2 linked regions of the Homo sapiens genome follow. The protein of the gene in region 2 purifies or fractionates together with the protein of the main gene of each other region. This does not show direct contact. Each region holds a gene or a part of one and is shown on either strand. Other genes may lie near its edges.

What was found.
Region 1: the proteins of ALDH1A1 (region 2) and ZC3HC1 purify together in Homo sapiens (co-immunoprecipitation; one large-scale study listed by IntAct). This does not show direct contact.

Annotation. Positions count from the first base shown.
Region 1 is NC_000007.14:130,037,707-130,041,533, reverse strand, and holds part of ZC3HC1 (zinc finger C3HC-type protein 1), read left to right. Parts: intron 1-432; coding exon 433-583; intron 584-1,986; coding exon 1,987-2,070; intron 2,071-3,827. UniProt on the Homo sapiens protein: Required for proper positioning of a substantial amount of TPR at the nuclear basket (NB) through interaction with TPR.
Region 2 is NC_000009.12:72,904,411-72,908,237, forward strand, and holds part of ALDH1A1 (aldehyde dehydrogenase 1A1), read right to left. Parts: intron 1,623-3,827; coding exon 1,548-1,622; intron 1-1,547. UniProt on the Homo sapiens protein: Cytosolic dehydrogenase that catalyzes the irreversible oxidation of a wide range of aldehydes to their corresponding carboxylic acid.

The sequences.
Region 1 (3,827 bases), on a different chromosome or scaffold from region 2:
AAAAAAAAAGAATGAGTTAAGATTGTAATTTATGACTTATTCATTTTAATATACTTGCAGTGTTCACCTGTGATTCCAGCACTTTGGGAGGCCAAGGTGGGCAGATCATCTGAGTTCAGGAGTTCAAGACCAGCCTGAGCAACATGGTGAAACCCCATCTCTACCAAAAAATACAAAAATTAGCTGGGTGTGGTGGCGTGCACCTGTGGTCCCAGCAACTTGGGAGGCTGAGGTGGGAGAATTGCTTGAACCTGAGAGGGTGAGGTTGTAGTGAGCTTAGATCGTGCCACTGCACTCCAGCCTGGGAGACAGAGTGAGAACTTTTCTCAAAAACAAAAAAAAAACAGTATGTGTATACACACACACACACACACACACATACACACACATATATATATATATTTGCTGTGTTGTTTTTCTTAACATGGATACTCTTTGAAATGGGCAGGTAAGCCCTTTGAGCTGTCTCCACTCGTCTGTGCAAAATATGGCTGGGTCACAGTGGAATGTGATATGCTCAAGTGCTCTAGCTGTCAAGCTTTTCTCTGTGCCAGTTTACAACCAGCTTTTGACTTTGACAGATGTAAGTATAAGGTACAAATTACATTTTTCTCCACACTCAAATATATACTATCCTGGTTTTCTGGGGGGGGAAAAAAGGTCATTTTAGTTTGATCAAAAAATGCGTACTTCAATCTTTTTTTTTAATCTTTTTTTTTTTTTTTGAGATGGGGTCTTGCTTGTTGCCCAGGCTGAGCAAGATGTAATAGTGCAATTACAACTCACCACAGCCTCAACCTCCTGGGCTCAAGCGATCCTTCCTCAGCCTCCCAAGTAGCTGGGACTACAGGCGCAGTGCCACTACACCTGGCTAATTTTTGTTTTTTTTTTGTAGAGGTGGGGTTTTACCAGGTTGCTCAGGCTAGTCTTGAACTCCTGAGCTCAAGTGATCCGCCCACCTTGGCCTCCTAAAGTGCAGAGATTACAGGGGTAAGCCATAGTGCCTGGCCAGTCTTTTTTTTTTTTTTTTTTTTTTGAGACGGAGTCTCGCTCTGTCCCCCAGGCTGGATGGAGTGCAGTGGTGCGATCTTGGCTCACTGTAAGCTCCGCCTCCTGGGTTCACACCATTCTCCTGCCTCAGCCTCCCAAGTAGCTGGGACTACAGGTGCCTGCTACCACGCCTGGCTAATTTTTTGTATTTTTAGTAGAGACGGGGTTTCACCGTGTTAGCCAGGATGGTCTTGATCTCCTGACCTTGTGATCCACCCGCCTCAGCCTCCCAAAGTGCTGGGATTACAGGCGTGAGCCACCGTGCCCGGCCTTTTTTTTTTTTTTTTTTTTTTTTTTTTTTAAACTAAGCTAGCTACTGCAGCATGGACTTGACTTAATGTAATCTAGGTAACAGCAGCATGTTTACTTTATTATTCCAAAATGTATACTTCTAGACGAAGAGTGACAAAGGACTTTTATGAAGTCTCACACTTTGGAATGCTCTGCTTTATAAGATACATGGGGGCCGGGCGCAGTGGCTCACGTGTGTAATCCCAGCATTTTGGGAGGCTGAAGTGGGTGGATCACATGAGGTTGGGAGTTTGAGACCAGCCTGACTAACATGGTGAAACCCCATTTCTACTAAAAATACAAAACACTACTCAGGTGGCTGAGGCAGGAGCATCGCTTGGGCCTGGGAGATGGAGGTTGCAATGAGCCGAGATTGCACCACTACACTCAAGCCTGGGCGACAGAGCAAGACTCTGTCTCAAAAAAATAAAAAATAAAAATAAGATACATGGTATCTCCTTTGTTGATCTTAGGATCTCAATTTAAAACCTGTTTTGTGAAAAATATTAAGATTATGTACTTGATAATATTTTCACATTTTAAAATTCTCTTATTTTTAGTTAAATCTCTGCTCTTAGAGGCCATTCATTGGATTTTGAATCTATATAGTGTTTTTTAAGGTGTTGCTGTTTATGTGGATTTCAGATAAGCAACGATGTGCTGAGCTGAAGAAAGCCTTGTGTACTGCCCATGAGAAGTTCTGTTTCTGGCCAGACAGCCCATCCCCAGGTACTTATTTTTGAGAATTCCTGTTCACCATTTTTCCTTCATCATTGCATTTCTAATATTGTCTGTTTGTGAAAACCTAGTCTTTGAACTTTCTTTTTCTCCTTTTCTTTTTTTTTTTTGAGATGGAGTTTCACTCTTGTTGCCCAGGCTGGAGTACAGTGGCGCGATCTTGGCTCACTGCAACCTTCGCCTCCCGCGTTCAAGCAATTCTCCTGCCTCAGCCTCCAGAGTTGCTAGGATTACAGGCGTGCGCCACCACGCCCAGCTAATTTTGTATTTTTAGTAGAGATGGGGTTTCACCATGTTGGTCAATCTGGTCTCGAACTCTTGACCTCAGATGATCCGCCCGTCTCGGCCTCCCAAAGTGCTGGGATTGGGATTACAGGGGTGATCCACTGTGCCCGGCCTCTTTTTCTCCTTTTCTATTTGCATTATTTCCAGAAAAACTTATATTCACTTGTGTTATTACTTACCTTCATGAAGTGCATTTGACATGCTTAAGGCTTTAGACATATATATGCATTATCCCATTTAATCCTTACAGGGGCCCTGGGAGGTAGATACTACCAACCCAGTTCTTTTGGTTTTTTTTTTTTTTTTTTTTGAGACAGAGCCTCGCTCTTTCACCCAGGCTGCAGTGAGGTGGCACGATCTCAACTCACTGCAGCCTCCACCTCCGAGGTTCAAGCGATTCTCCTGCCTCAGCCTCCCGAGTAGCTGGGATTACAGGTACACGCTGCCACACCCTGCTAATTTTTAAAATTTTTTGTAGAGATGGGGTTTCACCATGTTGGCTAGGCTGGTCTCAAACTCCTGACCTCAAGTGATCTGCCTGCCTTGGCCTCCCAAACTGCTGGGATTACAGGCATCAGCCACTGTGCCCGGCCATAACCCAGTTCATTTAGGTGAGGAAACTAAGAATCAGAGGTCTTAAAACCAACTAGAGAGAAGCTATAACTAAGTTTAATCTGATTTCAAACCCTCCGCTTTTCCCACCACACCAAGCAATGCCATGTTCTACCTAGGTTTCCTGTAGAGGGAGTACTAACAGCAATAATGGTGGAAGTTAAACAGGGTTCATTTGCTGAAGAAGACTCACAGGACCCCAAGTGAGAGTGATCACAAATCTGCAGTTTATTGCAGTAAAACAGTACACTATCACAGCAGCACTGAAGTAAGGGTGTCATTACAGCCACAGGCTGCCTGTCTGGGAAGGCCAGGTCCAACCTCCTATTTCCTGTCTATATAAGGGCCATGAGAGGACATACTCTCCCTTGAATCAGGAACTACTGATGTGTGCACAGAACACTTTGGAATAAGAGAGCCCAAAGTGTAATCTCAACTGGGTTTTTAAAAATATTTTGTTCTTTGGCCAGGCACAGTTGCTCCCAACCATAATCCTAACACTGGGAGGCCAAGACAGGAGGATTGCTTGAGTTTAGGAGTTTGAGACCAGCCTGAGCAATAAATATAGTAAGACCTCATCTCTATGAAAAATAAAAAATATTTTGTTGATCACATAGGCATATTCCTGCTGAGTAAACAGCTTCAACAGCAGAGCCCTCTGGTGGGGAATCTAAGAGCAAGTATAAAAAAATTCTTTAGACCCATAGTTAAAAAGCAACACTATTCATCTGTATATTTCATGCCTTGACCAGGAATCAGTGCCATGTAGGTATATTTTTTATTTCAGTAGGATGGCAGGCTAATTCCAGGGTCACTGATGGCTAAGAATATTCCATGATTTACCACTAAAA
Region 2 (3,827 bases):
ATCAACAAAATTCACTAGCCCCTCAACATACCACATGTAATGTTCCATGCAAGAAAGCCCTCTTCTCTACTAACTGATATCCTACACTTGCTTTCTGCCCTAGAGGAAGTTTCATCTCTTCTGTTAGGAGAAGTTTTCTTCTCTATAAACTGCCATTAAGTTTTCAACCACTGGATTTCCAGTGGGGTCAGAACTATAGAATCTTAAGCATGGAATAGAGGTTAAAAGATCTATTTTCTTCTTCCACTCTTATCCACACTCACAATCCTTGGCCTTGTCTGACAGATGAAAATAGTGATGGTTAGAGAGATGCCATCCTGACTCTTATACTCTGGTAGTGTCTAGGTTTTCTTCAATACTTTGCTCGGTACTTTAATTGCTTCTCTACCTCCATAGGATATGGAATCCCAGTGTATTACTACTTATTTCATAGTGTATGTAGGTTATTTTGCATGTCCTGCCACCACAGCTATGTAGAGCATGGAACATGGTGTCATGTCTCTGGGGTTCCTAGGACCTTACACATAGCAAGTGCTTAATAAATGAAAGCATATTGAGAAAGTAGACTGGTCATTTTATAATTCTCCCATTTCACTGACTCTTCAGAGATATTTGTTTCCTTGTAATTTTGCTGATTTGTTAGAGTACGGTACTCAACCATTTAATACATTTAGAGATTGAGAAAGGCACATTTTCACTTCCTAATTACAAAATGAGCAAGTTTACGATCTGTGTTTGATACTATAAGGTTTCTATTTCTTTTTTCTTCATAAATGTTTACATTAATACATGTAAAAAAGTTTTAAGAAATAAAATGACTAAACTTGCCTAAACAAAATCAACTAAGCATATTGCCACTACTTTCTGTATTTACATATATATGTGCATACTTAAAAAGTCTATATACCCTAGTTTCAAAAGCAATTGAAATTTCATAAATGCATTTATATATAAATATTCTTAATCTAGTCACTACTATAAAACATGTTTTCCTCAAATTTCCTTTTAGGTTTAAGTTTTAATACTAAAAATAACTTCTTATGGTAATAAAAAATGTTAAAGTCTACATCAATAATATCTCAACAAATGGGAATCATTCCTCTTACACTGAAATTTCCTTTACATAAGTCACCTAATTTACTTATTTAAATGGTTTATTCAAATAACTAGAGTGTTTACATTTGCACCTTTCTTGCAATCACCAATGCATAGTTTCCACCTCTTTTCTGGAAATGTTTCCCAAATGGATTACATTCATATATATAGCAAGCAATTCTAAAAGCAAGCAGTATTACAATCACCAATGTAAGTTGCTTAATATAGTCCCTAAAATATAGTAGGAATTTAGTAAATTATGTTGCTGTTCTGCAATCACCTTTTGCACTTATGGAGTACATCCCACATTTAATAAGCTATTTGGTGCTATGAATCTCCAGGAAAGAACAGAGGCAGGTTTTATGTAAGGTGAAAACTATGAGTTAATTCCCTGGGAATGAAAATCATTTTCATAAAAATAAATATTTATCTTAATAGAACGTTAATCTTACAGTTCTCTTCCATTTCCAGACATCTTGAATCCACCAAAGGGGCACTGGGCACTTACCACGCCATAGCAATTCACCCTGAAGGAAAAGAAAAGTGCATTATAGACAATACTTAAGGTGTGAAAAAAAAATCCTTTTTGGCAGTTTTAGAAATTTGGAAAGCTCCTTACAAACTCCATTAATTTCATTATAACATACTCATCTTGATAAAAAAAAGTAGCACTATAAATTAGAATGCAGACATATATGGATACACACTACCTAGAAACAAATAGAATAGTGCAACTATATATATGGATAGCCATTTTGGTCGTACATTGTGTCCCTGAGAAGTGGTAGTCTGAATTTATAAAAGATAGAATAGTCACTATGCTGTAGGGGGAAAGATATGGTTTGCTAGAAGCTAGAATTTGTTGGATCAGTATTCATTACTGCTTATATATGGATCAGCTTGTAATTCTCTTGATGTTTCTGTACTTAACAGGCTAGAATCAATTTTCTTTTGCAATTGTAATATGTATCATATTACTCAGTTAATTTTTTTTCCCATTAATTGGTTAAATAAATTGCTTAAACAGAGGCCTTGGCAGGAGTTGGGTTTAATTATAATTTATTCCCTGTCATATTTCATAAAGTGTTTAAAGATGCTTATATAAACAAACATAATTACATGAATAGTAGTAATTAGAATCCAACAAAAAATTACAATAGAAGATCTAGATGGGGAAAATTAGAATGCAGTTTTGCAGACCATAAACAATTTGTTTAGCTTTAAATTTGCTGGTGGCCAAAAGTTAGCAAAATCTAATTATTTACCTGATTCTCATTATACGCAAGAGAAAAACACTTTTTAAAGGAGATTTATGTTTATACTTTTCTCTCCCTTCATGCTATTTTAATAAGTGGACAAAAATGTGGCTTCCAGAGCCTGGGTTAGTAGCTGGAGACTGAGGCAGGAGGATCACTTGAGCCCAAGAGTTTGAGACCAGCCTGGGCAACATAGCAAACCCTTGCCTCTACAAAACAAATTTAGAAAACCAACCAAACAAACAAACAAAAAACCAGGGTGGCTTCCAGATAAATTGTATTATACTTTGAAGGTTTGGTCATTACTTTTATCCTGAGATAATATTCAGATGTTTTCTTTGTTAAAACACTATCCCAGTTCCCGAAGTTCCACATTCTCACTGGACCATAAAGTTCTTAACTATGTCTCTCATCCTGGAGGGATAATTCCTTTAATAAATTTACACTTACAAAAGGCAGTATTGTCTCAGCTTTGTTTAATTGCCCTTTAAATTGCAAAATCAAATACTACTTTGAAATTATGAGTAAACTTCCTGCAACTCTGGAGTTCAATAATTTTCCTGAAAACACCAAGCAGCTATTAGGTCTGGGACAATGCCAGAAAATTATTATCTTCTAGGATATGTAGTAACAAGATGGTCCCCTCTGTTTTTCATAATAGAGGAAATTCCTGATCAGGGATTCCCAAGACCCTCAGTGGGGTGATGTCATAACAAGCTTCATCAAACAAGCATGGAACATTCTGCTAGTCGAAAATACAAAACTGAAATTTGTCTTTGTTAAAAAGTGCAGAGAGTAAATTTGCTCATTTTACTGTCAACTAGAAATGAAACTATTTTACTGTGAATTAACAGGGAACTGAGAAATGTTCACTTGGCAAAAACTTTGAGTTCAAAATGTTATCTGTCTTCTGCAAGCGTTTCCTCATGTGTAAAGTGGGGATGATAATATTTAATAGGATTGTTTCAAGGTATGCGTAAGATTGCGTGAATAGTATTCTTGTTGTAGTACTTGGTATAAATATCTTCAGTAAGTGGCGATAATATACATACACACAGTAACTATGCTGAATTTTATTAATGCTTTTATCATAGGCAAATTCTATATTCATCACTAGCTATACCGACTATTCAAGAAGAACTTGCTGAATTTTATTTAAGAGTCTCCCATTAGGCCCACTTCCTATTGCTGTTACAATGGCATTTAAATTGCCACATGGGCTTTGGAGGAGAAATTTAAACTATACACTGATATAATTTGTGTTAATGTATACCCTCCCCTGCCCCAAATCAGTTTATACATTTTTAAAGCCCCCGAGATGATTCTAATGAACAGCCAGGGCTGAGAACCACAGCCTTAGAATATTGTATAGGTCCAGGCCAGCATGGTGGCTCAGGCCTGTAATCCCAGCACCTTGGGAGGCCAAGGCGGATGGATCACTTGAGGTCAGGAGTTCGAGACCAGTCCGGCCAACAT